2 separate regions of the Homo sapiens genome follow, and region 1 is linked to region 2. A link means that fine-mapping ties the variant in region 2 to the plasma level of a protein whose gene starts in the linked region. Region 2 holds a variant in brackets. A gene starts in the other region. All regions are shown on their reverse strands. Region 1 holds the start of LMOD1 (leiomodin 1). Region 2 holds the start of NINJ1 (ninjurin 1).

Evidence for each region. PIP is the chance, under the fine-mapping model, that this variant and not a neighbour inherited with it causes the effect. The UK Biobank Pharma Proteomics Project read protein levels with antibody pairs (Olink). The fine-mapping took linkage between variants from a reference panel, not from the people measured, so its PIPs are less certain.
Region 1: it holds the start of LMOD1, and the variant in region 2 is fine-mapped to the plasma level of the LMOD1 protein (UK Biobank, PIP 0.96).

Annotation. Positions count from the first base shown.
Region 1 is chr1:201,938,409-201,954,691 of GRCh38, reverse strand. LMOD1 (leiomodin 1) reads left to right here and starts at 8,144. Exons shown (of 3, transcript NM_012134.3): 1 at 8,144-8,612. The coding sequence starts at 8,352. RefSeq lists an enhancer at 12,292-13,241.
Region 2 is chr9:93,122,258-93,138,007 of GRCh38, reverse strand. NINJ1 (ninjurin 1) reads left to right here and starts at 3,757. Exons shown (of 4, transcript NM_004148.4): 1 at 3,757-3,865; 2 at 11,370-11,598; 3 at 12,946-13,109. The coding sequence starts at 3,791. The coding sequence ends at 13,100. It overlaps LOC124902212 (a long non-coding RNA gene), which reads right to left and starts at 4,996. Exons shown (of 3, transcript XR_007061665.1): 1 at 4,415-4,996. RefSeq lists enhancers at 2,447-3,043, 4,503-4,552, 6,034-6,631, 6,632-7,230, 9,857-9,916 and 1 more and silencers at 3,013-3,062, 3,563-3,792, 3,963-4,212, 12,930-13,094. The variant C/T (reference allele first, on the strand shown) is at 5,326.

The sequences.
Region 1 (16,283 bases), not on the chromosome of region 2:
AAGCTGTTACCAAATACACGTAGCTCCTTTAGGGCAAACAGTGTCTCAGTGATTTATAATAACCACAGTGCCTGGAATGTAGTAGATGCTCAATAAATGTTTGTGAACTGGAACTGTTTGGGCCATCTGGAGAGCCATGACCAATTTGGAGCCCTCGATTTCAGGGACATTGACACCAGAGCCTCTCACAGGCCTCTCCACTAATGATCACCAGAAGGTGTGAAGATGTTTGGCTCGGAGAAGAGGGGACTTATGGGGACCAGGCCGGGCGTGGTGACACGTGCCTGTAGCCCTGACTGTTCGGGAGACTGAGGCGGGAAGATAGCTTGAGCCCAGGAGATCTACCCCGCAGGGAGCTGTGATCATGCCACTGCACTCTAGTGACAGAGTGAGACACTGTCAAAAAAAAAAAAAAAAAAAGGTTGGGACCCATGGAGCTTTTAGTTTACTGTCAACAAAATCCCAATCATGTGATGGCTGTTAAAGTGCTCCTCTCCATTCTGTACGTTTGTAATTAACTTTAAAAATATGTATATATTTATTTTACGGAAAAGTCAATGTCATAAATAATGGAAGAGGCCGGGCGCAGTGGCACACGCCTGTAATCCCAGCACTTTGGGAGGCCGAGGCGGGCGGATCACGAGGTCAGGAGTTCGAGACCAGCCTGACCAACATGGTGAAACCCCGTCTCTACTAAAAATACAAAATTTAGCCTGGCGTGTTGCCTGTAATCCCAGCTAGTCAGGAGGCTGAGGCAGGAGAATGGCTTGAACGTGGGAGGTGGAAGTTGCAGTGAGCTAAGATTGTGCCTGGGTGACAGAGCGAGACTCCACCTCAAATAAATAAATAAATAAAGGAAGACTGCAAAGAGGAGTGAGGGTCTCTCCAAAAGCTTGGAAATAAAGTAAGCAGATGAATCGAACCCTCCATGGAACTAAAGATTATCAATAAATGTGTCTTGCACGTGAGAATGGTTCATACTAGTTATCTGATTTGGGTGTGTAAGGTGGAGAAGACGTGTTCAGAATGTGACTGTAATTAAGAATAGTTAACTCTATTTAATTGTACAGGCCAAAGAGAGAATGTGGGAGAGGGGACATGGAGGAATTCAGAGGGCAGGAATCTGACATTTAGTCAGCACCGAAGACCTGGTGGGTATAAATATTTTAGTAACTAGAGATTTGCACTCTCACCAGGACCCAGATAAAATATCCCTTAGCTCTAGCTCTAGCTACCTCCCTTTGTTCTTATTCCATATTTATTATGCAATCTTCTTCTTCTTATTTGGCTTCTGAATAGATTTCGATATAGAAGAGAATACCCTGGCCTGTGTTTATAACTATTCTTCTCCACTTGGTAGTTAATACTGGCTTATGTATCTGCCTCTTGTGAGATCAGTTATTTTGACTAAATCACCAGGAATAGTCAGGGTTCTCCAGAGAAACAGAACCAAGAGGATATATATATACACACACATATATATATCTTATTGTGTGCAAATATATATATATCCTTCTGTTTCTGTTTCTCTCTCTCTCTCTCTCTCTCTATATATATATATATATATATACATAAAATTAATATTTATTTATTTATTTTTGAGATGGAGTCTCACTCTGTTGCCCAGGCTGGAGTGCAGTGACGTGATCTCGGCTCACTGCAACCTCTGCCTCCCAGGTTCAAGTGATTCTTCTGCCTCAGCCTCCCGAGTAGCTGGGACTACAGGTGTGCGCCACCACACCTGGCTAATTTTTGTATTTTTAGTAGAGATGGGGGTTTCACCATATTGGCCAGGCTGGTCTCAAACTCCTGACCTCGTGATCTGCCCACCTGGGCCTCCCAAAGTGCTGGGATTACAGGCATGAGCCACCACACCCAGCCTATTTATTTATTTATTATGAGTAGTTGGCTCACATGATTATGGAGGTTGAGAAGTCCAATAATCTGTGTCTGCAAGCTGGAGATGGAGGAAAGTCAGTGATGCAGTTTGGTCCAAGTCCAAAGGCCTGAGAGCCAGGGGTGCTGATGATGTAAATCCCAGTTTGAGGGCAGGAGAAGGTGAAATGAGATATCCCAGCTCAATAGTGAGGCAGGAAAAGAGGGGCAAATTCTTTCTTCGGCCTTTTCAATGCCCAGCCACACTGAGGAGGGCAATCTACTTTGCCGAGTCTACCAATTCAAATGCTATTCTCATCTGGAAACATCCTCATGGACACACCCAGAACAACATTTAATCTGGGCACCCTATGGCCTACTCAAGTTGACACATCAAATTAACCATCACAGTGATAATGAGTTTCGGAGTTTACAAAGCTGAAGTCCAGTTTCTAGGTTGTGGTTCCCCAGCTCATTTAATTCCAACAGTCCCTATCCTAAAGGAGTTTACTGCTCTGGGAAGCTCCGCTCAAGTGGCCAAAGAAACTTTAAGGAAAGAGACTTCTTACTCTTTGCTCTCTTTTAATTGCAACAGATAACAGAACATTTTTGGCTGGGCAAGGCCCAGGAGAAAGATGTCACGTCTTCTCAAAAATATTCACTTCCATTTGGTTCCAGGGTGCTAAGTGAAGAAATCTTTTGAAAAGGGTTCAAAAGAAGCCTTTTGAAAGGTTTAGAAGGATTGGTACTCTAATCTCCCCCTAGTTAGTCTTAAAGAATTCTGAGGGACTGTGGTGGCCCTCACTGATGGAATGGTCAATGATACGAAGGCATAGTAGAAGAAAGCAGTGGAGGTCCTTGAGAGAAAAGTCACCATAAAGGTGAAGGGCGTTTGAACTTCTGATTCAACATACCAGTGTATATTCTATTGAAAGTTACTGTTCTGGGCTCAAGATAGGACTGCTGCTAGAGCCCCATGTGGTCCAGGTACTCAGTAGATCAAGCTTCATTGAGCCAGAGGCTGCTGTGGCCTAAGGAACTCCATCCACTAAGTCACAGGTCATGTACATGGCACCAAACCCACAGTCCCACCTGGTCCATGTCATGGAGAAATTCAGATTGGCGTGGATAAGTAAGCCTCCTGTTGGGTTTGGGTTTTAGTTTGTGACCAGGGCTGATTTGGTAGACAGAGGGGTTTTAGCTTAGGTAACATTGGTGGAGGTGAAGGAGGCAATCTCTTGTCTCTTTGCTGCCCCCTTTTTCCTCCCACTGCTCTCCTCTCAGGAAGACATTAGTCTGGCCTGTGCTCTGTCTTGAGCTCTCCTCTGCCCATTTCTGCTCATCTCAGGAGTGCTGGGCCAGGCCAGTGGCTTGCTCCCAGAGGCAAAGTCTGCTGCCTTCTAGGGGAACTGTCAGCATCCCCCAAAAGGAAAGAACCAGTGTGAAAACTTCTCTCTTTTGTGGTCTCTTTCAGGACCCTGCCATAGTCATTCTATGTCAGCATATCTCCTGATCTTTGCATGTATATACACATACATATAGCTATATAATTTAACTATATAGCAAGCATCAGTGAGTGCTTAAAATATGTCCGATGCTGTTAAGTACTTTGCATGCATTATCTTATTTAATATGCTCAATAATTCCATAACTATGAATTAGGGTTTTTTTAAATTTTAGATTATTTTATTTTCGTTATTATTTTTTGAGACAGTCTCACTGTGTCACAAGCTGGAGTGCAGTGGGATGATCTTGGTTCACTGCAACCTTTGCCTCCCAGCTTCAGGTGATTCTTGTGCCTCGGCCTCCCAAGTAGCTGGAATTACAGGTGTGTGCCACCACACCCGGCTAGTTTTTGTGGGGTTTTGCAATGTCGGCCAGGCTGGTTTCAAAATCCTGGCCTCAAGTGATCAGCCCACCTTGGCCTCCCAAAGTGTTGGGATTACAGATGTGAGCCACTGTGCCTGGACAAGGTTTTTTTTTTAAGAGATGGGGTCTCACTCTGTTGCCTGGGATCATCTTGACTCCTGGCCTCAAACATTCATCCCACCTCCTCGGCCTCCCAAAATGTGGGGATTACAAGCATAAGCCATCATGCCCGGTCTGGTTTTTTGTTGTTGTTTTGTTTTGTTTTGTTTTGTTTTGTTTTGTTTTAGAGACGAGTCTCACATTTTCCCTAGGCTGGACTCAAACTCCTGGGCTTAAGCAACCCTCCCGCCTCAGCACCCCAAGTAGTTGGGACTACAGGCACACATCACTGCACCCAGCTCGTAGATGCTCTTAATATCCTCATTTTCCATTGCCTAAGGCTCAGAGAGGTTAAATAACTTACTTAAGGTCACACATCTCAGATTTGAGCCCATGTCATTTGACTCCAGAGCCTGTAGTCTTATCTGCTATACTATACTGCCACCCTATATTCCTGAAAATGTGACTTTCCTGGGGTCATTCAGCCCAACTGAGAGCCACCTAAGCATTAATTAAATTGGTTCTGGATCCTCATTCTTCCCTCCTGCCCTGCACCACATTTTGATTGGAGCTTTGAGTCTCTTTTCCTTCTTTTCTCTCCCCATCCCTCTAGCGACAACAGTGCTTGTTTTTCTCTGGGGAATAGACAACGGCCAGGGTCCTGATACCCAGGATGGATTTGTTTCAGGTGGAAGTTGATTCTGAGCTGGAACAACCAGTGCTCCCTACAGAGTGGGTCGGGCAGTGGCCTCTCATTGTAGGGGCTGGAGGTGGCTGTACTCCCTGGCCTCTGGGTTCCCAAATCCTCCAGCTCCAGCTGTGATGCCTTTCAAGGGAAGACTTTTGGAGTCTGTGAGCAGTGTCAGGGAGCTCTTGGGGCTCCAGGGAGTAAAAAGCTTCTGACTGAGTCATGTCAGAAGAACCAGCGATTTGGAATTGGGAGACCTGACACAGAGAAGATACTGGGGTTAATGTGTAGAAACCTTTGGTTAGGAGGCATGAGTCCTGCCCTTTACATTTGAAAGCTATGGATTTATTTTTTTGAGTGTCTTCCTGGAGCAGAGACCACTGGGCCCAAAAAAGAAAACCACTGAAACCAGATGGTACAGGGCTAACCCTGGGGCTGAAGGTAGTGATTTGCTTTTAGGCCCTGACTGCTCCTCAGGGAGCAGTGAATATTTTTGGCAAAAAGCCTGAGAAAGAGTCCTTGGAAACTAGAAAGAGAATTGCTTTCAGCTGACTGGGAGGCTAGAGGTTGGCTGAGGTCCTAGAGCCAGGGACCCCAGAAGATGATGCTTTTTTCTGGGCAACACTGAGGGTGAAGGCCAGCTGACCCAAAGGGGGTACAGGGGGAGGGGATGGGCATAGGGAGTGCCATGTCCACCCAACATACCTAACTAAAAGCCCACTCCAGCATGGCTGAAACCCTTTGTTATGCCCTCTGAGATGACCACCCTGACTCCTCCCCACAAAATTAATGTGTCTTCCACTGGGTTTTTTAACAGTTGGACCTCTCTGCAAGACTCCTTGTACCTCTCTAGCTTGCTTCACTTTGCCTTACAGTGTAGTTATTATTATTTTTTACCCCATTGAATTATACATGTTTAAGAGAATAACAATGTTGTAATGACAATGTTGTAGTGCCTGGCAGGATGCTATATATAAATAGTAGTATCTGAATAAATGTTTGAATGAATGAATGAGAACCAGGTGAGAAAGTGTGTGTGTGTGTGTGTGTGTGTGTGTGTGTGTTTAGAGGGTGTTTACTCTTGAGAGAAAGAAATAAAAAGATGAGAGAAAAGGTGGGATGGGAAGAAAAGAACCCAGGACAAGAGTAAATAAATAATTATAGCCAGGCGCTGTGGCTCACGCCTGTAATCCCAGCACTTTGGGAGACCGAGGCAGGTGGATCACCTGAGGTCAGGAGTTCAAGACCAGCCTGACCAACATGGAGAAACCCCATGTCTACTAAAAATACAAAATTAGCCGGGCATGGTGGCTCATGCCTGTAATCCCAGCTACTTGGGAGGGTGAGACAGGAGAATTGCTTGAACCCGGGAGGCGGAGGTTGCAGTGAGCCGAGATCGCGCCATTGCACTCCAGCCTGGGCAATAAGAGTGAAACAGAGTTTCCCAATAAATAAATAAATAAATAATTATAATAATTAATAATAAATATGGTGTTTACCATGTACTGGGTATATCAATGAAATGTTGTCATGTGTAGGACCTAATTTAATATTCACAACAATTGTATAAGGTTGGTATAACTGTTGTCCTTATTTTACAGATGATGAACTCAAGTCTCAGAAAAGAAGGTAGCTTGCCCAAGTCACATGGCCTGTAAGTAGCAATACCAGGACCAAATACAGGTCTATTGGCCTCAAAGGCCCAAGCTCTTCACTGTTAAATCATACTTCTATTCAGCCTCCTCTTGTTGTGTTTTCCCATAGCCCCTGTGCTTGCTCGCTCTTTCTTTCTTTCTTTCTTTCTTTCTTTCTTTCTTTTTTGAGATGGGGTCTTACTCTGTTGCCCAGGCTGGAGTACAGTAGCGTGATCACAGCTCACTGCAGCCTCAACCTTCTGGTCTCAAGCAATCCTCCCACCTCAACCCCCTGAGTAGCTGGGACAACAGATGCTCACCACCACATCAGGCTAATTTTGTTTTTTTTTTTTTTTTGGAGAGATGGGGGTCTCATTATGTTGCCCAGCCTGTTCTTGAACTCCTGGACTCAAGCAATCCTCTTGCCTTGGCCTCCCAAAGTGCTGGGATTACAGACATGAGCCACTGCACCTGGCCTGATTTTGTATCTTTAGTGATATCTCTTGCTCTTAGAACAATGCCTGATATATAATAGGCACTTGATAAATCACTCAATAAATATATACCTACGGTTTGACCAATAAGTTGGCTACTGACTCTTAAAATGACAACCCCCAGGTTTCCCTAAAGTCTTCTTCCACTCTTCCTATCAAGTCTGCCTGCCTTCCTTCTGCCCTTCAGTCCCCCCAGTGGACACCATTCCCCTCTTCAGCCTTAACCTAAAGTTGGACTAGTGGACATTAAATGGCACGGCCAAGTTTTAGTCCCAGACGATCCCTGGACTCAGCAAATGCTGATCAAGTGACTGTCTCTCTCTGGCTTAGGATGGAAAGATGCCAGGAAAGATCGAAGCATCTACCCTGATGGGTTACACCAGGGCTTCTAGAAGGGATTTTGTGGCAGGAGGAAGGGGGGCAGGGGATTGAATGTCTCTGTGACTTGTGCAGGGCAGCATGATGGATGAGCAGTGGAAAGCCCTTCTATGAAACATGCCAGACCTGTTGCAATCGTATCTCTCCCGACGGCCCAGAATTCTGTTTCCCTGAAGACATACTAAATCGTGCTCTGGATTTATATGTGGGTGGTGACCTGCCTCTGTGCTCCCAAAGGAGGTCTGTCTACAGATGCCCGGCAGAGGAAGAAACAGATGACAACAGGGGGAGGTTTGAACCCTCTTCCCAAGAGCCTTGGAACTTCATGGAAAGTGACAGCCCTTTAAGAGTTTCCCGACTTCTGCAGATCCTTCTCTCTTTCCCAAACAGCCTGCCAGTTTTCAGTTTTGGTACACAGTAAGGATTTATTCTCTCTCTCTCTCTCTCTCTCTCTCTCTCTCTCTCTCTCTCTCCCTCTCCTGCCTAGCTATCTCTATCTCTAAGTTTGTCTTTCTGTCTCCTGTCTCTCTCTTAAGAAGTGGCCAAAGGATCCTGGAGCCTCTGATGCTCAGCCTTCAGGTCCTCCTTGGCAGAACCTGGGTAGAAAGAAAATGGGTAGGCAGGGGGTTAGGAGTAACAGCTCCTCATCTTGAATCTAGACTTTCCTGGAGCTGTATACACCTGGGAGCCCCCCAGCACATTACCAAATACTGTAGAAGGAAGTCCATGAACCACACATTGACCACAGTGATACGTCCACCCGGTGATGGAGTAGTAAAATACGCTCTTGAACGTGCCCCGGGCTGGCGAGTTCACCGGCCCTCATGGCCTCGTCCCTGCTTGTCTGGCTCTCCGTGGCTGTGATCTGCTTCTGCCAGCCTACGCATTTTTGTATCTTTTTCTCATTGCGTGGCCCCTTGTCTTTAAAAGGCTAAACTGCTCTGTACTAAATTTGGTCACGCAGCGCTCCAAGATTCCCTGGAATGTCCTCAAGTTTCAAACAGCTCTGACAGCGAGGTAGGCCCGCCCCCAGCTTGGGGATTGGCTTCTCCTCTCCGGGCCTGGCAGTTGTCGGGTCTTATTGGCCGCTGATTAGACCAGCCGGGGTCCACTAGCCCTGGGCTTCAGGGAGGCTGCTGCGTCCAGTGAACACTTCAGCACCTGTAGCACAGAAGGGCCAAGGAGCTGCAGTCCTCGACCAGCAGGAGGTTTGCTCCTCAGCCCACTCGCTGCATCCAGATCAGCTCACCCCTCTCCCTTCCCTGCCCACCAGGACTCTGATAGCCCCTGGCAGCCACAGCCCATTTTGCCAAGATGTCTAGAGTAGCCAAATATCGCCGGCAGGTGAGTGAAGACCCCGACATCGACAGCCTGCTGGAGACCCTGTCTCCCGAGGAGATGGAGGAGCTGGAGAAGGAGCTGGACGTGGTGGACCCAGACGGGAGTGTTCCCGTGGGGCTGCGGCAGAGAAACCAGACGGAGAAACAGTCCACGGGTGTGTACAACCGGGAGGCCATGCTCAACTTCTGTGAAAAGGAGACCAAGAAACTTATGCAGAGGGAGATGTCCATGGATGTGAGTGAGCACAGCCCTGGAGGGGAGGAGGGAGACAGGGGAGGGCTGGAGACCCTGGCTTCATGATTAGGATGCTTCCTTCCTTAGAAGAAACGTTCTTGTTGGCAAAGGATTTTAATGCTTCAGAACTGATGATTATCCACTGAACTAGCGGTGCGAATCTCTTACTCCTAATTTCTGTTTTATAAGCAGAAGTCGGATATGTTGGAGGAACACAACATCCCACAAAATCAAATAGAGCTACTAGTAGAATGGGAGCTGGAAGGTGTCCTTGAAGAGTCCATTGTCAAGTTGACTCCATCCTGGTCCCACAATACCTTTGTTTTTCTCCACACTCATTCCATCCTATTGTGAGGAGGGGTAAAAAGAGAGAGTGATACTTTATGTCTCCTGTCAGCCACCCAAAAAGACAAAGCTAAGCCATTTTTTGTGGGAGAATAACTCATTTTCAAGTCCCCAACCCTATGGGCATCTCACGGCACATGGATCATTTCAGGAGGCTTGGGGGTAAATGAGTTTCCCAAAGCAAAGGGAGACAGGGACCAGGAGTCTATGGGCTGGGAAATGTGGCTTAAAGACCTGATAAGCTTCAAATTTATTCCCAGGGAAGATGTTTTTTGTTGTGGTTAGTTGGTTTTTGGTTTTGTTTTGTTTTTGCACTCTCCAGAGGAGCCTCTGGAGGGAGCATGCCCTCTTTTTGGTAATTAACCCTTTAGCAGCTGGCGAGGCCGCTTTGCTGGGGGTTGAAGATAGTCATAGAGGAGGGAAAAGGGGTGACGGTTTTGGAAGCATCTGCCCACACCTACAATGGGCTTAAGCACAACTTGCTTTCTGTTTTCCTGAGTTGGCATGGAGGAATTTTTTTTTTGTCACTATTGCATTGGTATGTGAGTTTTCTTTGGACAAACTAGCCTCCGATGAAGTATGACTTTGTGGGATACCTTTGTCCATGGGAAAGAGTGTTGCATAGGAAAATTGTTCAAGTCTTTGTTCTAGTTCTCTTATTCAGCCACATCTCTTGTACATTATCCATTACTTGTGAATTCTTGCAAGAAAAAGATCAGTCTCAATTCTTGCTTTTTGTTTTACTTCTATGGAAACTGAGGCACAGAGCTTCAAATGACATGCACATTCTCACAGAGGAACTGAGAATGGGAACATTATCATCCAAAATGCCTGCGGAATGACTGGCTGGGTATGAAATTGTGTTGACTGCTAGTCACAGAGCATATTGGTGGACACAGCCCTGACTCCTTTAGTGTAGCAATGGGAAAGAAGGGAGGAGGAGGGAAGGGGGTGAAGCAAAGAGGAGCTGGAACTCTGTCTCTGTCCCTACCGCCCCCCCCCGCCCCACCACCTATGTTTAAGCCTTTGCCAAGAAGAGGGAGAAGGAGGGAGGAAGGAGGGAAGCCAGGAGGCTCAGGAATTTATTGTCCTGTATGCACAAGGTGGTTGCCCCAGATGCAGCTATGATAATGATAAATAAAACCAAAACATTTACAGAAAAAGTGGTAGCACTTACTGTGAGGGCCCGGTACCCCAACACAGCTATCAGGAATCATACAGAAAGAAATGAAATGCAGCCAAAGGCTTTGGCACCCTTGGAAATCGTTGACTCTGCTCTTCCCCACTCCCAGTCGCAGGCTCTGGGCCCATGACTGCCTTGTGTCCGGTAGCTTCCAGTGCTCAGAAAGGTACTCCTGAGGCTGAAGTCAAACAAAGCAGTCTAATCACAAGCAAGAGTGTGAAGGATTCTCCTGTTCCTGGAAATTTCACTATCATAGACTTTTTATTCAGCCAGTTAATACCGTGACAAGTGTCTCCTCCCCTGCCTCACCTCTCTCACCCCTGCCAGGTCCACACTTGGTTCTGCGGACAGAGCCCGAGTCAAGAAATAGAAGTGGTGTGTGTGTTTGTGTGTACATCCTTGATGTAAGGAGATGCCTTTAGGTCCGGTTTTCCCTTGTGGATGTAGGCTGTTCTGATCCCCTCACTCTTCCTCACCCTGTCCAGGGACGTACATTGGCATAATGGCTGGCTGGAGTTCGGGGTGCATGCTGAGCCTGGGCAGAAGTCATCTCTGTAAATCTGGGTGAGAATGAACCCTAGAAGGTGGCTTCTTTGGCACCATTAACAAAATAGTGAGTGTGTGGCCAAGAACTTGGATTTAAGTATTAGAAAAACCTGGTTTGAGTAATGGTGTCTCTGTGTAAGTCACAAGTTACCTAATCTAAGCCTCAGTTTCATCACCTACAAAATATGGATAGTAGTACCCATCTCACAGGGTTGTGAACACTAAAAGCGGTGCTGCGGTAGAGCACTTAGCACAGAGCTTGGCGTGTCATAAACACTCAGTCAAGGCCAGCTATGAAATTATTACTTCATCTGAGTCAAGGAACCCAGAAACCGGTGAAGTGGGCCGAAAGCAAATCTCTACTCCTGTCCAGCCCCTCTCTTCCCTCAGTTTCCTGAGGGCTGTGCAAGCCTCACCTGTCAGTTTAATGAGTGGCCCGAGTAAACAAGCAACCCCTGGGTGCTCAGAGTGGGGACCACCAACACCACAGACACAGCACCGTGCTGGGGGCAGGTGGACTCCAGGCTGCTGGCCTGGCTGCAGCCCTCACTGACGGTGGCCTTCACTCCATGTGAGGAACTGAAAAGTGGTCAAAACAGAGAGTAAAGCAAGATGAGCATTTACTAAGAAACTTCTACATGCCGAGCACATTCACCTTTTCTTTAAGCCTTACGATTCTTGGGAGATGTGTATTTTTATTCCTATTATCTTAGAGAGGTTGAATAACCTTCCCAAAGTCACACAGCTAATTAGTTGAGATCAGTGCTTCTTCCTCTCTGCCATACTAGGGTGCAAAAAAGACAGTAATGTCAGTCCCTGCCCTGAAGAATTTGTAATCCAATTAGATTCCATGCAAAACACACATGGATAGAACCATCAGAGAGTGCTACAGAGCAGAGACCACAAATTCTTATATTGGCTGATATAATAGTCTTCTGTCAAATGTTCATCTCCCTGCCCCCATGAGTAGGAACATAACTAGAAAAACTAAGTGTGGATTAGGGAAAGTAAATCCTGACTAGATAGTGGATGCTGTTAAGGAATTTCTATTAATTTCTTTTAGGTGTGATAATGGCATTGCAGATATACTTTTTAAAGGATTCTTTTCTTTTAGACATAAATACATAAATATTTATGGGAAAAATTTATTGGCTTTGGGAATTAGCCTTAAAATAATCTGGGTGGGGGTATATATAGATGAAACAAGATTGGCCACCAGTTGACAATTGTTGAAGCTGGGTGATGGGTCTACATGGGTGTTCATTATATTATTTTTTCTACTTTTGTATGTATGTTCGAAAATTTTCATAATAAAATTTAAAAAAAAAAAAGAAAGAAAGAAACCAACATTGGGAGGTTGGCCTTAAGACAGTCTTAAGGTCTGTCTTTTCCCCAGAAGGACAGCCCCAAGATGCATACTCTGGCTATTGTGCAAAGTGAGTCTAGGCTGCCAGAGGGCCCTTGGCCTGCTTCTCCCTCCAGGGTCTCCCTCCAAGGGATGGGATATTCCAGAGATCCTCCTGATTGTTTACCATCTTTTTCATGAATATTCCACCCTTGCCTCTTCCAGGTCAACTCCTATTTGTTCTGCCTGTCTCAGGTACCACTTCCTCCAGGTAGTCTTCCAGGACTCCCTCAAGGTCAGGCACCTTGTCTGAGCGCTCCAATACCAGTCTGTACCAAAGCCCTTGGGACATGACTTTTGTATAATCATCTGTTTTCTTGGGCTGTCTCACTCACCAGCTTGTGGGACTTGGAGGGCAAAATGCAAATGCAGGGCCCAGCACACAGCAGGCCTTCAGCCTCTGTTTGTTGAGTGAATGTTAGCAGGGGATTGGGGAGGGTAGAGGTGGGACTTGGAAGAATTGACCCCAGCTTCTCTCCCTCCCTTTAAAGGGCCAGACCTGTCAGCCAGTGTAGCTCCGCCCTAATCATCCGGGAACTCTCCTTCAGCCCAGGTAGAAGACAAAGCCCCTGGGCAAGCTGTAGCCAACGGTTCAGTGAAACTCTTGTCCTTGTCTCAGGTTTCAGGAACCGGATCCCAACCGGTCAACTTGTGTGTCCTCTTTCCTTCCCAAGTGGGAAAGAAAATCTCCAGCCTGCCTCCCCCTCCCTTCTCCCTGGTGTTAGCAGGGGCTGGGGATTAGCGCCTGTACCCAGCCAGGGTCAGGGCAGCTGAGCTGGTGGGGGTGGAGGAAAGCTCTCCCTAGAGGTAAACTCGAGAAGCAAACCCGAAGCAACCTACTAATAGCGGCTGCTGGGCCTGAGCCCTCCTGACCTTCCACTCCCACTGCCTGCACAGCCTCAGCAGCCCCCTCCCCCATCGGTTCTAGTTCACAGCTCAGTGTCCATGGTATCTCTACGGGGCCGGGAAGGCCCGAGGCCGGCGGCCTAACCCTCAGAATGCCCTTTGCAGAGGGTTGGGACCTATCAGGAGTGCACTGAGCAGCACGGCTCAATGCTTAAGGAGATTAACCCCAACTGGTACACACCCAAAATAGCCCTGGAGGCTAGGGTGAAGAGGGCAGAAGAGGTGACGGGGGCCTGTTGACCCAGGGAGGCAAAAGCAGGCACCGGAGAGGGTTAGACTGTTAAAATCTCGCCCTGAAATTTGAAACTGCCTCCATCCAGAGTTTGAAAAAGCAACTGCTTGTTTCTTAAACTAGGTGGTACAATCCACAGGTGTTTGTTTTAAATATTGTTATTATACGTTTTCTTCTGTATGTATATAATATTTAAAGAATTTTGAGGGCAGGTGTGATGGCTAATACCTGTAATCTCAGCACTTTGGGAGGCTGAGACAGGAGGATCACTTGAGTTCAGGAGCTCGAGACTAGCCTGGGCAACATAGCAAGACCCCATCTCTAAAAAATTAAAAATTAAATTAAAAAAAAAGAATTTTACCAGCCTGGCCAACATGGGGAAACCCCATCTCTACTAATAATACAAAAAAAAAAATGGCCAGGCACGGTGGCTCACACCTGTAATCCCAGCACTTTGGGAGGCCAAGGCGGGTGGATCACCTGAGGCTGGGAGTTCAAGACCAGCCTGACCAACATGGAGAAACCCCTTCTCTATTAAAATACAAAATTAGCCAGGCATAGCGGCACATGTCTGTAATCCCAGCTACTAGGGAGGCTGAGGCAGGAGGATTGCTTGAACCCGGGAGGCGGAGGTTACGGTGCGCCGAGATCGTGCCATTGCACTCCAGCCTGGGCAACAAGAGCAGAATTCCGTCTCAAAAAAAAAAAAAAAAATGCTGGGCGTGGTGGTGCATGCCTGTAGTCCAGCTACTTGGGAGGCTGAGGCAGGAGAATCACTTGACCCGGGAGGCGGAGGTTGCAGTGAGCTGAGATCGAGCCACTGCTCTCCAGCCTGGCTGACAGAGCAAGACTCCATCTCAAAAAAAAAAAAAAAAGACTTTGAGCAAGTGAGGCATTAGTGCCTGCTCCCACCCTCAGTGCTGCCCTCTGGGTGCCTGCCTTCTCCTTACTGGGACAGTAGGTATAAGAGCTTGGTTAGGCCGGGTGCCGTGGTTCATGCCTGTAATCCCAGTGCTTGGGGAGGCCGAGGCGGGTGGATCACGAGATCAAGAGATCGAGACCAGCCTGGCCAACATGGTAAAACCCCATCTCTACTAAAAATACAAAAATTAACTGGGTGTGGTGGCGCATGCCTGTAGTCCCAGCTGCTCGGGAGGCTGAGGCAGGAGAATCCCTTGAACCCAGGAGATGGAGGTTGCAGTGAGCCGAGATCGTGCCGCTGTACTCCAGCCTGGCAACAGAGCAAGACTCCATCTCAAAAAAAAAAAAAAAAAAAAAAGAGCTTGGCTGGATGGAAAATGCAAGAGGGAGGCAGGACAGATGGACAGGACCAAGGAGCACTTGTAAAATAAGATGGCTCACCAGTGAGAGCGGGATATAGATGGTTAAGAGGTGGGGTCTGAGTCCCACTAACCAAGGGGAGGTTGCTCCCAGCATCAGAGAAGGCTGGAGGCTTCAGGGATTCTGGGAGCTTCATGGTCCCCAGGCTGGGACAAGAAGGTGAGGACAAAGCCCCGGTCTTATCTGTCTATCCTCCTTCAGTCTCTCTTTCTCTCCCCCAGGAGACTTTAGAGTATCTTTGTCAGACCGTGTCAGCATATCTACAGCTGGGCCCAGAGTGTGCAGAGCCTGAATGAAGCACACCAAGAGATAGGCAGTCTACACACATGTGTATACACACACACACACACACACACACACAGCAGGAGCAGAGGAACAACACACAGCGCCATGCATGGGGGACAGGAGTGGCGACGCTAATATTTACATGCCTGCCAAGTTGGATAAACAGGAATATCCTGAGCCATAGAATGCAGGCCTTTCCAGATCAGGCCCTTCCTTATTTATTGGACCACTTTTGTTTAACCAGCAAAAGAGCAGTGGTCTCCATTCGGTTCATCAGTTCTCCCAATGGCTTGTTAGTGTCTGGGCAGTGCGGTGAGACAGAAAGCCCAGGGGTGTCTGGAATCAGATAGGTCCAGGTTTGAATTCTGCTCCTGCCCCTTACTGATCCAGTGACTTGGAATAAGTTACCCAAGGAAGAAAGAACATTAACTTGATTGAGTGCCTTCTGGAGCCAAAGGCTTTATCGATGCTATCTCATTAACATAGCTTCTTGAGGCCCAATTACTTCACCTGTCAAGTGGGGATGATAAAATCATCCTTGAAGGGTTATAGTGAAGATTAAATAGGATGAGGCATTGAAAGTGTTTGGCACATCACGAGAGACCTTCTTTCCTCACTCTAAACTCTTCAGAGTTTGTACCTGTATATCTGCCAAATCAACATTATTTTATCTCTCACGAAATTAAAAAAAAAAAAAACCATCAGTGAGTGTGAAGGAATGATGAAGAGAGAGGGGAAGGGGAGGAAGGAAAGCAGGGAGGCAGGGCTTATGTAATTACTCGCTGCCTGGCCCCAGCAGCCTGATTTCTTTGAGCCTCTGCCTAATTTATTTTATGTCACAGGCTCAGGGGCCCAAACTGAGTTGCTGGGTTGGAAAAAGACAGAGTGAAAGGAGATTAGGAGAAGATTTTGAGGTGGATTCTCCTTGTCTGCAGGCTTCCACCCCAGCACAAGCTCAGAAAAGCCAAGGCTGCTTTGGGAGAACTTGGCTTCAGCTGTCCCTGGGGCCCACTGCAGAAAGAACAAGCCGGGTTGTCGGGATGCTGTTTACAAACAGCTAGGAATAGAAGCACCTCCTGTTCCCACACCCTTCCACCACCCTTTCATGGACAGCCCACAGGCTCCTTCTGATTGTTACTTCAATAGGCCTTCCTTTGAGATCAAGCCGGCAGGGCTGGCAGGACCCCTGTCCCTGAGACTGGCAGGTGAAAGGTGCTACATCCTCAGGCAGAAATTCCCAGGGAAGCTCTGAGTGCAGACTATATGAGTCTAGTGGTTAGAATAGTCTCCTCAGGGGCCAGCTAGACCTGGGTGCAGATCCAGCTCTGCTGGTTGCTGGCTGAATGACCCAAACAAGTGACTTCACGTCTTGGAGCCTGAGTTTCCTCACCTATAAAATGGAAATTACGGCCGGGCGCGGTGTCTCAT
Region 2 (15,750 bases):
GCTCATCTCCCATCACCTCGCCCCTTATCATCCTTGACCTGGCTGTGCCTCCCCTCCCACTGAGCCCTGCCTGGTGACCTTGGCAAGTCCCTCGGCTCTCTGAGCCTCTGCCATCCCATCTTTAGTGTGGGGATGATGGCATGGCACCTCCTCACAGGCCTGGGCTTCCTTCCTCTGTCCTTCTGGAAATGGGGTGGCCACGCTACACACCCGCCTCCCTTACCTCCCTGCTCTGTACACTGACCCAGTGAGAGCTGTGGTCCCTGGGGACCGCCTGATAGAAATGCAGACTCCTGGGCCCACCCTGATGCCAGGTAACAGCTCCTTCAGGTGGGTGGGGAATGGATGGGCCACGCCTGGTGCTGGCAATACCACAGGCTTCCAGGGAGTTGCCATTGCCCTGGGCCGACTGCCAGCCCCGTCCTCCTCCCGCTCATGTTAGCAAGAGCATGTGCAGGCGGGCAGGTGGGCATGCAGAGCTGGGTCACCTCGGGCATGCTGCGCCACCTTGCCAGACTCGCTTTCTCCCTTGGTGATGTGGAAACGGCATACCTGCCTGCAAGCCTCTCCGAGGTGGAGGAGGCCAGGGACTGGCTGCTTCTGAAGGCTTTCTGTAGGTGAAAACATGGTCCATCTGACCCATGGACCTTTCAACAGCTTGGTGCTTTCACCGCATGTTCCCCCAGGTCTGAGAGACACAACTGTACTCCCCATAGTACGCGGTGGGGGTCGCTTAGACCGTGCTTAGTCCCAGCTCCTAGGACAGTGGGTGAGTAGAAGGTCCAAGCCTCCGGTGTGCCTGTTCTCTGCCCCACTGGGGTCTCATTCTTGGTCAGCGGGATGGAGCCACCTGCTTGAGGTGGCACTGTGAGGAGCACGCTGGGGTGACACCTCCATGGTCCTCACATGCCATCTTGCCTTATACCCACTTTACATATGAGGAAGCACATCCCAAGCCAGAAGGGGCAGATCTGAACTCAACACAACGCCAGCCCCAGAAGAATCCACTAGAGTCTTTGATGGGGGAGAGGGATGCACCAAGCCTCCCTGGGCACCAGAGAGGCATCCTGAGATACCCTGTGGGCTCCTCCACAGAGGCCTGGGGCCCTCGTACATATACAGTGTTTGTGTGTGCACACCCACCCACACATAGGGCTGCTCTGCTGGGGCATCTGCCAGCCCGTTCCTCCCAGCCACACCCCTCCTCTGTGTCTCTCCTGGGGACATGTCCCTCAGCTCAGGGTCAGCGTCTAGAAACTGGTCTTGGACAGCTCATGCACTCATGGTCTCCAGGAGAACTTGAAAGTAGGTGGTTGGGCCCGGTGCAGTGGCTCACGCCTGTAATCCTTTCACTTTGGGAGGCTGAGGTAGGCAGATCACAAGGTCAGGAGATCGAGACCATCCTGGCTAACATGGTGAAACCCCGTCTCTACTAAAAATACAAAAAATTAGCCAGGCGTGGTGGCGGGCGCCTGTAGTCCCAGCTACTCGAGAGCCTGAGGCAGGAGAATCGCTTGAACCTGGGAGGCGGAGCTTGCAGTGAGCCAAAATCGCGCCACTGCACTCCAGCCTGAGCAATAGAACGAGACTCCATCTCAAAAAAAAGAAAAAAAAAAGGTAGATGGAGGTGACACGGGGTACACTGTGCCTTTAAGACTTGTCCTGGGTTGGATCCAGCAGAGAACAGTTGGGTAAACAGCATTGAGCACAGTGGGGAAAACAGACACTACATACTCAAATGAGGATGACGGAGCAGACGAGGGAACTCCAGCGCTGCAGCCTGCCTGAGCCCTGACACCCACACGTCCTGCCAGCAGCCCCAGGAGCTGAGGAAACTGAGGCTGGGAGAGGGTCTCAGACGGCCAGCACAGAGCAGGTTTACAAACCCCGAGGCTGATGTCCCAACTGTCACTGGTGCTGCGACCCTCCCGGCTTCCTCTTAGAAGGTGGGAATGGGGCCAGGCGCAGTGGCTCATGCCTGTAATCCTAGCACTTTAGGAGGCTGAGGCGGGCAGATCACCTGAGGTCAGGAGGTGATCTGGCCAACATGGTGAAATTCTGTCTCTACCAAAAATACAAAAATTAGCCGGGCGTGGTGGCGCACACCTGTAGTCCCAGCTACTCAGGAGGCTGAGGCAGGAGAACGGTGTGAACCCGGGAGGTGGAGCTTGCAGTGAGCCAAGATCGCACCACTACACTCTAGCATGGGCGACAGAGCAAGACTCCATCTCAAAAAAAAAAAAAAAAAAGGATGGGAATGATGAACCACACTGCAGGAGCTCCCACATGGCACAAAGGAAAGAATACTCTCAGGACGGGGTCTCCACCTGCCAAGCCCTCCTACTTCGGGGCCTCTCTACACGCCCTTGGCCTTCCAAGGTCTCAGGGCTCCCCTGCAGCTCCCAGGGCCCTTTCTGGGTGTGACGTATTTTCTCTGTGGTCCCACACCTCCTGCCCCTCCAGGAATTGAGCCCTCGTGGGCAGGCACTATCCCCCAGAATAGGGATTTGTCCCATACTGTGAGAGAGTTTTTTGTGTGAATGGTGCTGGATTTCCAGCTGCTGGTGAACACTCAGGTGTGCCAACAGTGCCCTGATTATGCGAGGACAACAGCAACCATCCCCGTCGTGGGCCACCGTGCCAGACCCTGTCCTGCAGATCCCCTCTGAGGCAGAGCTGGGGCAGTGACAGCCTGAGCCTCAGTTTCTCTGCTGTGAAGTGGGCCCACGACAGCTCCTCCTTCATGGGATGACCCCGTTTGGAGGATCAGGGCAAGCGCAATCCTGCTGCCCTGCCCATGCCCACTCACTCCTACCTCCTGTCCCGGTGGCAGCCTGACTGGACAGAGCCTGGGGTCTGAGCTGGCCTTCCTTCCACTGCCCTTCTGGAAATAGAGTGGCCATACTGCCGCAAGCTGACTATGCTGTGGTCAGGATGAACTCCCCTGGCCTCCCAGGGTGGCCGCCACATGCTCTCGACCCCCAGGCCCCCAGATGGGCAAAGTGCTGAGGAATGAACATATGGAGAAACAGAGACCAAACAACCACTTCAATCATACAACAGGTGGGGGCCCGCCTAGCATCTGGCCAGGGCTCTGGGCACTGTGCTGCCCCCAGCCCACCCCCTGCCACAGGTGGCACAGATGGGCCCATGAGTCAGCGCACGTTCATCCCCTTTGTGCCTCCCCCAGCCCCTCCAGCAGTCTGTGCCCTCATAACCCCCATTTCCCAGGCAGGAAAACCTAAGGTCAGGGAGTGGGAAGCCCTGTGTCAGCGTGGCCCGCAATCAGGGGAACCCCGGACTCTCTGACGCTGTTACTAGGGGCGCAGCAGGCGCTGTGCTGGAGCGATCTGCGGTTCCCAGGGCGAACCCCGCCTGGGAAAAACCCAGCGTGGGCGCCAGCGGCAACGCCCGCTCGCTTTCATGCAGTTTGCCTGGTGGCCAGGGAAAGGTCGTTCTTGGCCTCATTTTGTGGATTAAAAGTGTCCGCGACGGAGGTTCAGAGCAAGACGCAGCGCAGGGTCCTCTGGGGCCATCGGCGTCGCGCCCCCTCCCTTGTGGGGCCCCGCGGGACCGTCTCAGGCCCGAGGGGTTGGGGTCGCCCCAAACTGCGCGCTCTCAGCGTACAGCCTCCAGGCCCCGGGCCCGCCCCGGGTGGAGGCGGAGTCTGGGGCAGCAGCTCGCCGCCGGGCGGGCCGGGGGCGGGCCGGGGGCGGGCGCGCAGCTGGAGCCTGCGGCTGAGGCTCGGGCGCGCTCAGGCCCGGATCCTGGCGGCCTGGGCGGCCGCACCATGGACTCGGGAACCGAGGAGTACGAGCTCAACGGCGGCCTGCCTCCGGGCACACCCGGCTCCCCGGACGCCTCGGTAAGACCTTCCCCCCACCGCTGCATGATCTTGCCAGGCCCTGTCCTTTCGGGGCGCCGCGGCTCCCCGGGCACCTGTGTGCGCCGCGTCCGCACTGCAGAGTGTTGGGGGACGTCCCGCTCTAGGCCAAGTCCTTCCCGCCCCATCAGGGTCAGAACGATGCCCCCGGGAGCTCCAGCCACCCCCGGCAAGTGGGCGGGACGAGGGGGCGTGGGGGCGCAGGGCGGGCTGGCGTCCCCAGCCCCACTAAGCAGCGCCCGCGCTTGGCTGCACGGCGGAGGGGGCCTCGGCGCAGCTCCTCGGGCTAAGGACTGCCGGCGCCCGGCTTTCCCGACCTCCCCCCCACTCTCGCGCGGGCCTCTCTAACTTCAGCCTCGCCGTGCCGGCTCCTCCGCGCACTTTGCCCGGAGGCGGGCGGAGGGGAGTCACAGCCTCCGGGCTCCAGACCAGCTGCATGCAGACAGTTACGTCACCCCACGCTGACCACACAATCTGATGCGTGCCTTGATGGGGGAACTTGGGGCCCGCTGTGGTCCCTATTCCACTCACCTGCCTTGAGAAATAGAAACGTCACACAGCCTTCAGTGTATGCCGCCACCGGCCCTCCAGAACTTGCCCTGCCCGGCCTGGGAGGGCTGTGGGCAGGGGGCAGGCCCTGGTAGTGGTCCCGCTTCAGAATTCTTCATCCCAGGACTCAGCACTTACTGAGCACCTTGTGTTTGTTGCAAGGTCCTGGCATGGCCCTCTGGTGACTTGTTTACTTTGAACATTCTTTCCTTTTCTAACCCCCTCAGGGATGGGGGCAGGGAACAGCAGCCTGTTGGGTTTTTCCAGGCCTCTCCATGGCGTGGACCAGACTGGGGCAAAGACACTCTGCCCACTCGCTGGTGAACAGTCCTAGGCCGGTGCTGTGGGGACAGGACATGTTCGGGGAGGCGGGGCCCCATGAGCCACGGGATAGGATGGCCCTGGGGCTGCATGGACACTTGTTCCTAGGTTAGAGAGGAGCTGTCGCACTGCAGGACTTGACCGGTGTGCGGGACCCCAGCGACCTGGCCCTGCCCCAGTGTGTGAGCACTTTGGAGCAATAGGCAGGGGGCTCCTCCGGCTGTGTGTCCTTGGGAAGTTGCCACACCTCGCTGGGCCTTTTAGACATGGTCTTATAAAGAGAGAACAAAGGGTCTCTCCTGCCTTCAGGGAAGTGGGGAAAGCAAGTCAGGTAATAAACAGGTCAGTGGCTTGGAAGCGCCTTGGAAAGGAAGGGATACTGCTCCTCCCCCAACCCTGACCTTGCCCGGGCAATGCCCTCCACTCAGAGCAGTCTCTGCTCACTTCTGCGGGCGGCAGGATAGGCTGTGCCTCCTGAGATGGGTGCATCTCAAGCCCAGAGGAGATTGGGTTGGATTTGTTCCCGGATCACTGTCTTGGCTCTGGGCACCAGAGGGAGAGAGACACAGCCC[C/T]GCCCCACCAAGCCGCGGTTGGAGAGCAGCCCAGCCCAGACAGGGCAGGAGAGGCCAGGGCAAAGCAGGGGGTTCCCTGGGGGCTGGGAGCCCATCGTGGGGGGCGGGGCATGGTGGTCAGGGAAGGCTTTCTGTGGAGGTGGGGACATTGGCTCTGAGCCCTGGAGGGCAGGGAAGGTGGGTGAGCAGATCTGGCTCTCTGAGATGTGTGGAAGGGCATCTAGGCAGAGGGAACAGTGGGAGCAAAGGCTCAGAGGCTGGACCACAGAGCACATGAGGGCCAGGTAGGAGGTGGGGGGATGGGAAGCCAGGCCGATGGGAGGGGCCTTGCAGGCCTGATCACGGTCTGGTGTCCAGGGAGCTGTGGAAAGGCTATGAGCCAGTGTGAGGATGAGCACATTTCCCCTTGAGGGGTAGAAAACTTCGAGGGCCGCTCTGCTCACCCAGCCTGGGGGCCCAGGACCACCCAACACACCTGTTCCTCTTCCCAACCTCAAGACCTTGCTTCTCCGTTTCTTGGGCACATCATGTCAGCACTCTGTGCCTCAGTTTCTCATCTGTGAAATGGGTGTGGTCGCGGTGCCTGCCATAGAGAGTGGTGAGGACTCAGTAGCTGATGTATATGAAGTGCTTAGAGCCAGGCCAGCACTCAGCGCCCTCATCCTTCTGCCTGCCACGGAGACCCTCTCCCACTGGTGACCCCTGGCAGTGGTTTGGAGAGGGCAGCGCTTTGCCCAGCTCCCTCAGTTTCCTTTTCTGTAAAATGGAGAGTCTCAGTTTCCTTTTCTGTAAAATGGGGCACAACTGCTCACCTCCCAGGGTGGACAAGGCTCAGGGAGGAGCCACACGTGGAACTCCAACCTGGGTGGGCTCTGTTGGGCCACGGCCGTGGGAAGCTCTCAGGTCTCCCCTACCCCGTGTGCCCTGCGCCCCTGTGGCCCTTCATGTGAGGGCCCCCATCAGTGTCCAGGGATTGAGTCAGCTCACTTGTGGCTGTCAGCAGAAGGAATAGTAAACAACAATGTTAATGTGAAAATGGCCTGAATCTGTTATCCCCAGGGTGTCTCAAGGCAGGGAGGTGGTGGGGATGGGGTTAGGACACGGCCATCTGGTGCCAGCCACACCTTCCTGCCCCTCACAGCCCGCAGGTTGAAGGTTCCTGGGGCCACATCTGGGCCGAGAGGCATGGTCCTTGGAGGTAGGTAGCTGTGCCCTGTATACCTGCCGTCTGGGCCGTGCATGGCCTCAGCTGCCCAGGAGGAGGTTTGCTCGTTTCCTCATTTCCGCTTTCCTGGCAGATCCTGAGGCCGGCAGGGTCTGGGCCAAGTTCTAAAAGGCAACCCTAACATGGTCTCAGGGCCACTCGTGGCCAGTGCTGAGTCCGCGGGAAGTGGGTCTGCCTGGCCCAGCTGTGGTGGGAACCCCGCCTTCCAGCACTTCCTGCTGTCTTGCTGGGGTTTCCTGCCAGGAACACAGACATGGAGCTGGGAGACCCTCTCAGGGCCTGCTTCCTGGGCTGGCCGGTAGGAGACGGTGCAGGGCTCCAGTGCCAGGCCCTGCCTGTCTGTGTGGCATCTGGGGAATGGGCACAGCAGCTCATGCCCACACTGGTGGGTCAGACAAGGGATGCCGGAAGCCCCAGGCAGGTCCTAGCATATGGTGGGGTAGAAGAGGGGTGCCTGATTTTCAGGTCGCCCCACCATCTGCCAATGCCTGCTGAGTCCAAGGGTTAGGGCCAGTGAGCAGGACAGGCTGCGAGCAGCCAAGGTGTAGACTGGGACCCCCCAGGCACCCAGGGCAGGCACCTCGTCCCTGTTGTCCCCCTGGGTCCTGCTCAGCACAGGAGAACCTGTGCCCCAGGCTGTCCTTTCTTTGCTGTGTGACTGTTTTGTGAGCCTGTTCAGCTGCTTTTGAGTCAGTGGAGTTGGTCGGGGAGGCAGAGTCTTTCAAAACAGTGAGAGCCAGGCATCAAGGAAAACAGCCCTGCCACCCACTGCCATGCGCTCCACCAGCCACGGGGCATCTGAGACCACCCCATTCAGTCCCCTCCACATCCTTGTCTACCCATTTTACAAATGAGGAAACTGAGGCATAGAGTGGTCAGTGTTGAGGCAGGACTCGGGGGGTAAAGGAGGTGCTGTGGCAGCTTCCAGCCCTACTCCTCACAGGCCCCTGGAAAGGGCGACTGATATGCATCACCACATTTGTGGGCCCACAGCCCCGACCCTGTCTCCTCCCATCCAAGCCCTGGGTGAGCCAGAACACCCATTATGCTATGGCCAGAGCCAGGCCGGTGGATGCAGCAAGCCTGGTTCATATCCCACTTCTGTGCCAGCCCCTCCTGCCTGAGCTGAGGATGCTCACTGAAGTGGCCCTAGGACCGACCGTGTGGCCCAGCCCCAACATGTGCAGCCTGCAGTGGGGAGGCCGACCGTCCACAGAAGGTTGCATGAGGAGCCAGCCACGCCCCTACACAGAGCTGACCTCCTCACCAAGCCTCCCTCCTAGCTTTCAGAGGAAATATATCTGGCCTGGCCCCAGGCCCCGAGTGCTGCTGAGGTTCTGGGAATCTATTAACCAGGGTGTTTATTCCCTGCCCTGCCCAAGCCATGGGCACTGGTCTCAGCAGGGCTTAGCTCCTGGCAGCTCCTGCTGGCTGGTCAGGACCACAGGGCTCCCTCACCTGTGGTAGCTGGGTCCCCCGGCCACCCTCAGGCCCATCCCAAGATAGAGGCAAGTGCCCAGGACTGGGGGAGAGTGGGATCGTCCTCCCTGGGACCCTCCTGTGTGGTGGTCAGCTCAGGGCTCCAAGGCCCAGAGTACCAAGGTTAGGGACAGGGAAGCAGACTGTCCCTGCTGCCCTCCCCTCCACATGATGCTCCCAATGTGGCCTGCTGCCTGGGGTGGTTGCCAGCTATGCTGTATCCTGGGGCAGCCCTATGCTTTGGGACACACAGTCCTGGGAGATGGCTCTGGGAAAACCTCCTCTGAGCTGCAATCTGCTGGTCTGTAGAATGGGAGAGGAACACAGCCTCTCCCTTGGTAAGCAGGAGTTTCCCAGGTGCAACCCTAGATATACGGAGGGGGAGACTGAGGCCAACGGAGGGGGAGCTTGCGTCAGGGCCACGGGCTGGGCTGTGGTGAGCCAGGGCTTGACCTGCATGCAGAAGCTTCCCTAGCTGCAGGTTGGACAGGAAGCAGATGGCCGGATGGGCTGGAAGTGCCCTTCACCAGCAGGGGTGCATGGTCAGGGCATTTGCTGGCCACTCGGGGCTCAGAGGCCATCCTGGGGCATCTGCTCCACAGCCTCGTGGTACACATGGAAGACTGAGGCACAAAGTGGGGCTAGTTGTCCGGACACAGCTGGAGCCTGAAGCAGGGAGCCATTGAGAGTTCAGCCCCTAAGGGACAATGGCATCAGCTACCAGAGCTTCTGAGCCCCGGGGCCTGGGTTCAAATCCTAGCCAAGCCCTCACTTGCTATGTGGCTTTGGGTAAGGAACCGCCTTTGCTGGGCTTCAGTTTACCCACCTTAAGTGGGCATGAGGACAGCAGGGGCACAGGCTCCTCGTGGCTGGGGGTGCTGAGAGCTGAGGCTTGGGGAGCTGGAGGCTCTGCGCGGATGGTGCTTTTTAATGGATCTGAGTGTTCCTCGTGACTGCATGGCTGTGAAATATTTAAATGGTTCTGCAGAGCTCAGAAAAAAAGGGAATTCTTCCTCCTGCCCAGAGGCCAACACAGTTAGCCTGGGCTTGTGTGTCTGTTTATGTACGTGTGCATATGTATGTATGTGCATGTGTATTTGTGTGTGCGTATTGTGTGCACATGTGTGTCTCACGTCTATGTGTGTCTTTCTGGGGGATGTGTGTTTCTGTGCTTTTGTGACTAGGAACACGCACATATATGTGTAGATGCCCCCAGAAGGTGGAAATCCTCACGGGGTCTGCACTTGGCCTTCTCCCAGCACCAAGTCCTGGGATGGAGACCCGAATGAGCATAAGGGTGGCCTTGAAGGAAGGCACTTTGGCACTTGAGGTTTGTGAAACTTAGGAGCACATGCCCACTGTGGCCAGCAGCCCCTGGGACACTGCACCTTGCGGAGCACACGTGTGATGGGGTGTGGCCCACTGGGCAGCTTCGCAAGAGCAGAACTGGAGACGACCTCAGTGCCAGGCACAGGCCCTTGTGTCCGGGCTGTCCTCACCCAGACCCTGGGCAGCCTGGGAGGAAGCCCCTAAGTGGACAGTGGTGGGACAGGGACACACAGTCCTGGGAGGTGGCTCTGGGCAAACCTCCTCCAAGCTGCAATCTGCTGGTCTGTAGAATGGGAGAGGAACACAGCCTCTCACTTGGTGAGTGCCCTGGCTGTGCTGGGGCCTGGGGGAATCCCAGGGAGTGCAGCGTCAGGCCCAGGGTGGGAGAGGCAAAGTAGACACCCCATAGAGGCTTCGGGGTATGCATGGAGTGACCCGAGAGCACACCAGGGCCCCAGGGACAGCGCTGCTGGGTGGCCCAGGTAAAGGCGGCTGTCCCTGTGCGCACATGTGTCCACGTGAACTTGCTACTTAGAGAGCAGCTGATGCTGAAGGCAGGTTGTTGGAATTCCCAGGCCCAGGTGTAAGCAGCAGAGCCCACCAGTGTCCCCTGACGCCCACTCTCTTCCTCCTGGGCACATAATTTTAGATGAAACTGAAAAACACGCAGCATGAAAGCAAGGCCCCTGCCCTCTGCTGGTTCTGTATTGGCTGCCTCGTGTATTTTTCCAGCCTGCAGAAAGTCGAGGCCTGGATGGATACCATGTCCGCCCCTCCCTGTGGCCCTGCGGCACCCCGGCCTCCCGGCCTGCATCTTTCATGAGTCTGGAAACAGGATCTCCCAGAGAGGGCCCCAGGAGGTTGGCTGCCAGCAGTGGGTTCTCACAGCTGCCTCCAAGCAGGTGACCAGTCCTGGGAGGCTGTGGTCTAGGGCCTGGCAACTCAGGGGCGCCTGTGGACAAAGGGCCGGGCCAAGGGGCTGGCAGGTTTGTCCTGAGTGACTGAAGAGGGCCCCACCAGGGCAGCTTGAGAGGGGCAGACTCTTGCTCCAGAGAAAGAGGAAGTTTGGTACTTAGCTTGGAATGAAGGGCCAGCCCTAGAGAGGACCTTCCTGTGGCAGGAGAGAGGGCCATGTCCTGCCAGGGGAAGTCCTGGGAGGCTTCCTGGAAGCAGTGGCCTCTGTGTGGGGCCTTGGAGCTTGAGAGTGTCTGGCACCAGGGAAAGGCATTGGGGGCTTCGAGAGAACTGCAGGGGGCCCTGACCAGATAGGCCCCTAAGGCAAAGAGGATTCCATCAGAACTCGCATTCCCATTTTATTACTCTGGGAAGTAATGTGGAAGCTAAGCTCCACTGTATGTCGTATGCTGAGGCATCTGTTGAGCCTCTGCTGTGTCGGGGCCGGGCTCTGGGTGGCCCACCTCAGTGAAGTCTTGCTGCTAATGGCCGAATAGTTCTGCAAGGCCTGTGCTGAGGCCTGGAGGCGAGTGGCCTGTTGGGCCCCAAGGCTGGGAGGTTGGGAGGTGGCAGGGGCGATCTCTGCCCTTAGGTCCGGCCCAGGAGGACTTGCTTCTTGCCTGGGCCGGTGTGCACAGATCTGTCCGCCCACACGTCACTTCCTTTCCTGGCATCAGGAGCTCAGACTCTGAGGGGAGGGGGAGAGGAGGCCGGGGGCACAGACCGGTAGGGGCAGGCAGGGAGGAGCAGCCCCGCCTATGGCAGGAGTGGGAGGATCGGGCAATGCTTTCCAGTGGAAAATCAGAGTGCGTGTGCTAAGGTTGCTATGTCGTTTCCTTTCTCTCCAGGACCGTATTCCTAGGGGAGGTTTTATAAAGGCTGAGCACATGCTCGCAGCCTCTCCTTAGGGTAATAAGCACTTCTGTCTGAGCACTTACCAGGGGTGGGGGCAAGGGAAGCCCTCACCTGCAGGGCCCGGTGACCCCCAGAGCCCGACTCAGGCACAGCCCTTGCCCCCCTCCCCCACCCGCCTTGCTGACCATTCCCCTCCCTGCAGCCGGCCCGCTGGGGCTGGAGGCACGGGCCCATCAACGTGAACCATTACGCCAGCAAGAAGAGCGCAGCCGAGAGCATGCTGGACATCGCGCTGCTGATGGCCAACGCGTCCCAGCTGAAGGCCGTCGTGGAACAGGGCCCCAGCTTCGCCTTCTATGTGCCCCTGGTGGTCCTCATCTCCATCTCCCTTGTGCTGCAGATCGGCGTGGGGGTGCTGCTCATCTTCCTTGGTAGGTCCCCAGGTGGGGGCAGCCAGGCCACCTGCTCACCTTGCTGGCATCTGCTCGCATCGCCTGGGACAGGTGCCCACCACCTTGCACACTTGGCTCTCAAGGAGCTGCCGAGTTCCTGGCCCTCATCACCCAGACATGCAGTCCAGGAAGTGGCACCCCCCCTCCCCCCACCCTGCACTTTGGTTTTTGTTTTGTTTTGTTTTGTTTTTTGAAACAAGGTCCCCCTCTGTCACCCAGGCTGGAATGCAGTGGCGCAGTCTCGGCTCACTGCAAGCTGCATCTCCTGGGCTCAAGCGATCCTCCCACCTCAGCCCCCAAAGTAACTGGGATTACAGGCGCTCATCACCATGCCCGGCTAATTTTTGTATTTTTTGTAGAGATGAGGTTACGCCATGTTGCCCAGTCGAATTTTTGAGCTCAAGTGATCCAACAGCCTCAGTCTCCCAAAATACTGGGATTACAGGCATGAGTCACCACGCTCAGCCTTGTTTTGTTTTGTTTTGTTTTGTTTTTGAAACCGGGTCTTGCTGTGTCTTGATCACAGCTCACTGCAGTCTCAACCTCCCAGGCTCAAGCGAGCCTTCTGCCTCAGCCTCCCAGGTAGGCTGGACCACAGCTATATGCCATCATGCCAGCTAATTTTTTTATTTTTGGTAGACACGGGGTCTTGCTATGCTGCCCAGGCTGGTCTCAAACTCCTGGGCTCACGTGATCCTCCTGTCTCGGCCTCCCAAAGTGCTGGGATTACAGGTATGAACCACTGTGCCTGGCCCCACCCTGCACTTTGAAAGAGCACAGAGTGGGGTCAGGGCCTGGCCTGTGGGCATTAGGGCAGGTGTTTCACCGGGTTCTTGTTGACCCATGCCATGAGATGGCCTCAGTCATGCCAGTCCTACCTTCTGGGCCCAGGGTCCCCTTCATGGCTGCGTAACCTTGGGCAAGTGGCTGAACCTCCCGGGCCTCACTTATAAAACAGGCATCATAATAGAACTGCAGCTTGTGGCAGGAATCACTAGATTAAGGCACGCAAAGGGCTCAGTGCATTTGCCCAAACCTGGCCTTTGGTTGACGTCCATAGCTTCAATTCGTATAAGGAAAATATGGGGGCTACAGAAGGTGGGGTCATAGACCGTGGGGTTGCCCAAGCCAGGGGCGCTGTTGTCCATGTTTCAGCAAAACAGATGTATTTTTCTCTGGGCGACAAAACTCATCCTAAATGCGACTGAGAGCCCTGTAATGTCCCAGGACAGCTTGACCGCTGGGGTGGGTCCCCTTCCACTGTCCCAGGCTGGGGCGCTGCGTCTGGGCTGCCCTTGGCACCATCCACTCCTCTCTCGCCCACAGTCAAGTACGACCTTAACAACCCGGCCAAGCACGCCAAGCTGGACTTCCTCAACAACCTGGCCACGGGCCTGGTGTTCATCATCGTGGTAGTCAACATCTTCATCACGGCCTTCGGGGTCCAGAAGCCCTTGATGGACATGGCACCCCAGCAGTAGGACACCCAGGTGAGCTGGGAGATGGGGCGCGAGGCCTGCAGTCCTGGGGTTGCTCGCTGTTGGAGGCTCTTGCAGTGTGGTGAGTCCCTGGCCGGCCAGCCTTGGACACCTTCCTAGGCCATGGGCATCCTCGTCCACACCTACAAGGCCAATGCCTGGCCACTGCCTTGAGGCCAGCCCTGCCACTGGTGCTGGCCACCTGGGGTCCTGTGGTCACAGTGTTTAGATGGAATGTGTGTAGGAGCCACCATTTGAACATCCTGGAGAACTCACTTAAACGTAAGATTTCTATACATTCAGAATGTCTGTCCGATAAAAAAAAAAAGATTTCTGGGTCAGGCGCGGTGGCTCATGCCGGTAATCCCAGCACTTTGGGAGGCTGAGGCGGGCAGATCACTTGAGGTCAGGAGTTCGAGACCAGCCTCGCCAACAGGGTGAAACCCCGTCTCTACTAAAAATACAAAAAGTGGCCAGGCATGGTGGCACATCCCTGTAGTCCCAGCTACTCAGGAGGCTGAGGCAGGAGAATCGCTTGAACCCAGGAGGCAGAGGTTGCAGTGAGCTAAGATCGTACTACTGCACTCCAGCCTGAGCGACAGAGTGAGACTCTGTCTCAAAAAACACCCAAAACCCAAAGATTTCCGGCTTCTCTTGATAAGTCAGGGGCTCTGCACCCCTTATCAGCTCCACTTAGCAGGTGAAGCTTCCTCCCAGCCCTCGTCTGAGAAAAAGGGACCTTGGTATGACCGCCTGCCTGACATGCCCACCTCACTGTGCCACTCTGACCAGGACGGTGGGATTCAGGATCTTGTCACGTGGAGCCCTTGTGACTCTTCAAGTCTGCCCCTTGCCGGGCCTCGCAGAATCTGTTAGCTGCCTGCCTTAGGCTGGACCCTGGCTGTGTGCAGGATGCAGACTGAGGCTGTCTCTACAGGACGAGGCACCCAGTGTAGGAAGACTTCTCACACCACATACAGCCTCTCCCTGTGTCCTTGCTCAGAGAGGGTGAGCGTCTGCCCAGTGACACAGCCTGGGAGCAGGATCCACAGGAAGGCCTGGGATGCAGCCATGGCCAGGGCCACATGGTGCACACACTACAGTCCATGCAGCCAGGCCAGGGCCACACACCACAGTCCCCGCGACCTTAGGCCTAGGGGTCACCCCTCCGGTTTGTAGCAGAGGTGGAGGTGAGTTGCTAAGGGAGGGGTGGGCACTCCTGGCAGGTGGCCATCTCTCCACCAGTGGTGGCCCATGGCAGAGTAGACAGGAGCAGTGCTCTTGGGGCAGAGCGCCTGTGTGTCAAGGATATATAAAAATTTCCCCAGGCCAGGCACGGTGGCTCACACCTGTAATCCCAGCACTTTGGGTGGCTGAGGCAAGCGGATCACCTGAGGTCGGGAGCTTGAGACCAGCCTGACCAACATGGAGATACCGTGTCTCTGCTAAAAATACAAAATTAGCCAGGCGTGATGGCGCATGCCTGTAATCCCAGCTACTCAGGAGGGTGAGGCAGGAGAATCGCTTGAACCTGGAAGGTGGAGATTGCAGTGAACTGAGATCACGCCATTGCACTCCAGCCTGGGCAACAGTATGAGACTCCATCTCGGGAAAAAAAAAAAATTCCCCAAGAGGGCATAGTGAGGATGAGGTGGGGCGCTGGGGCCAGCAGCTGGGTTGGGAGCACCCTGCATCCACCTGGCCTCACCCCTCCCCACACGGGGGCCAACGAGTGACCGCTGCTCGTAGTGGCCCATGGCCTCTCAAGCTCCCCTACCACACCCAAGGCCATTCCCCCAGTGGGATCACGCCAGCCCCCAATGTCCCGGCCGTGGAGCCTGAAGTCACCCTCCTGAAAGGACCTGGATCTGGGCGGCCCCATGTGGGGTCCGAGTCACTGTCCAGATGCTGCCTCCAGTTTGTAGTTAAGTTGTCCTCTTCCAGAACACCTAGATGTCAGCTGCTCCCTGGCTTGGGCATGTGGCCAGGCCATTTATTAATCACCTGCTGTGTGTGCTGAATGCAGTCCCTAACTCTCCCAAGCATGAGTTATCTGCCTGCCGGGAAGAGGGTGCTGCGTCTGTGGGCCACGTGGGGACCCAGCAGTGGACCTTAAAGCTGTCCTCAGAGGCTCGGAGGCCAAAGCTGCTGTGTGTCCTGCGTGGAGCAGTCAGAGAGGTCTCAGGCTTCGTGGGTGGCTATGGTCACAGCTGCCCAACCCGAGCCCCCCATGCTGGGCCAGGCCTCTAAGTCCTGGCAGTAACCCAGCCATGCTATATTCATTCCATTTTCAGAGGGGAAACTGAGGCATGGAGTACTTTGACACCTCTCATGTCAGAATCAGGCTCTTCTCCTTCCTGAGTCCGGGTGTGCAAATGGCCCTGACACTCGGGGCTTGTCACAGCCTGGCTCAGAGCCTCTCCTCTCCCTCCTTCCAGGCTCAGAGCCTCTCCTCTCCCTCCTTCCAGGCTCAGAGCCTCTCCTCTCCCCCCTTCCCAGGCTCAGACCCTCTCCTCTTCCTCCTTCCAGGCTCAGACCCTCTCCTCTCCCTCCTTCCAGGCTCAGACCCTCTCCTCTCCCTCCTTCCAGGCTCAGACCCTCTCCTCTCCCTCCTTCCAGGCTCAGAGCCTCTCCTCTCCCTCCTTCCAGGCTC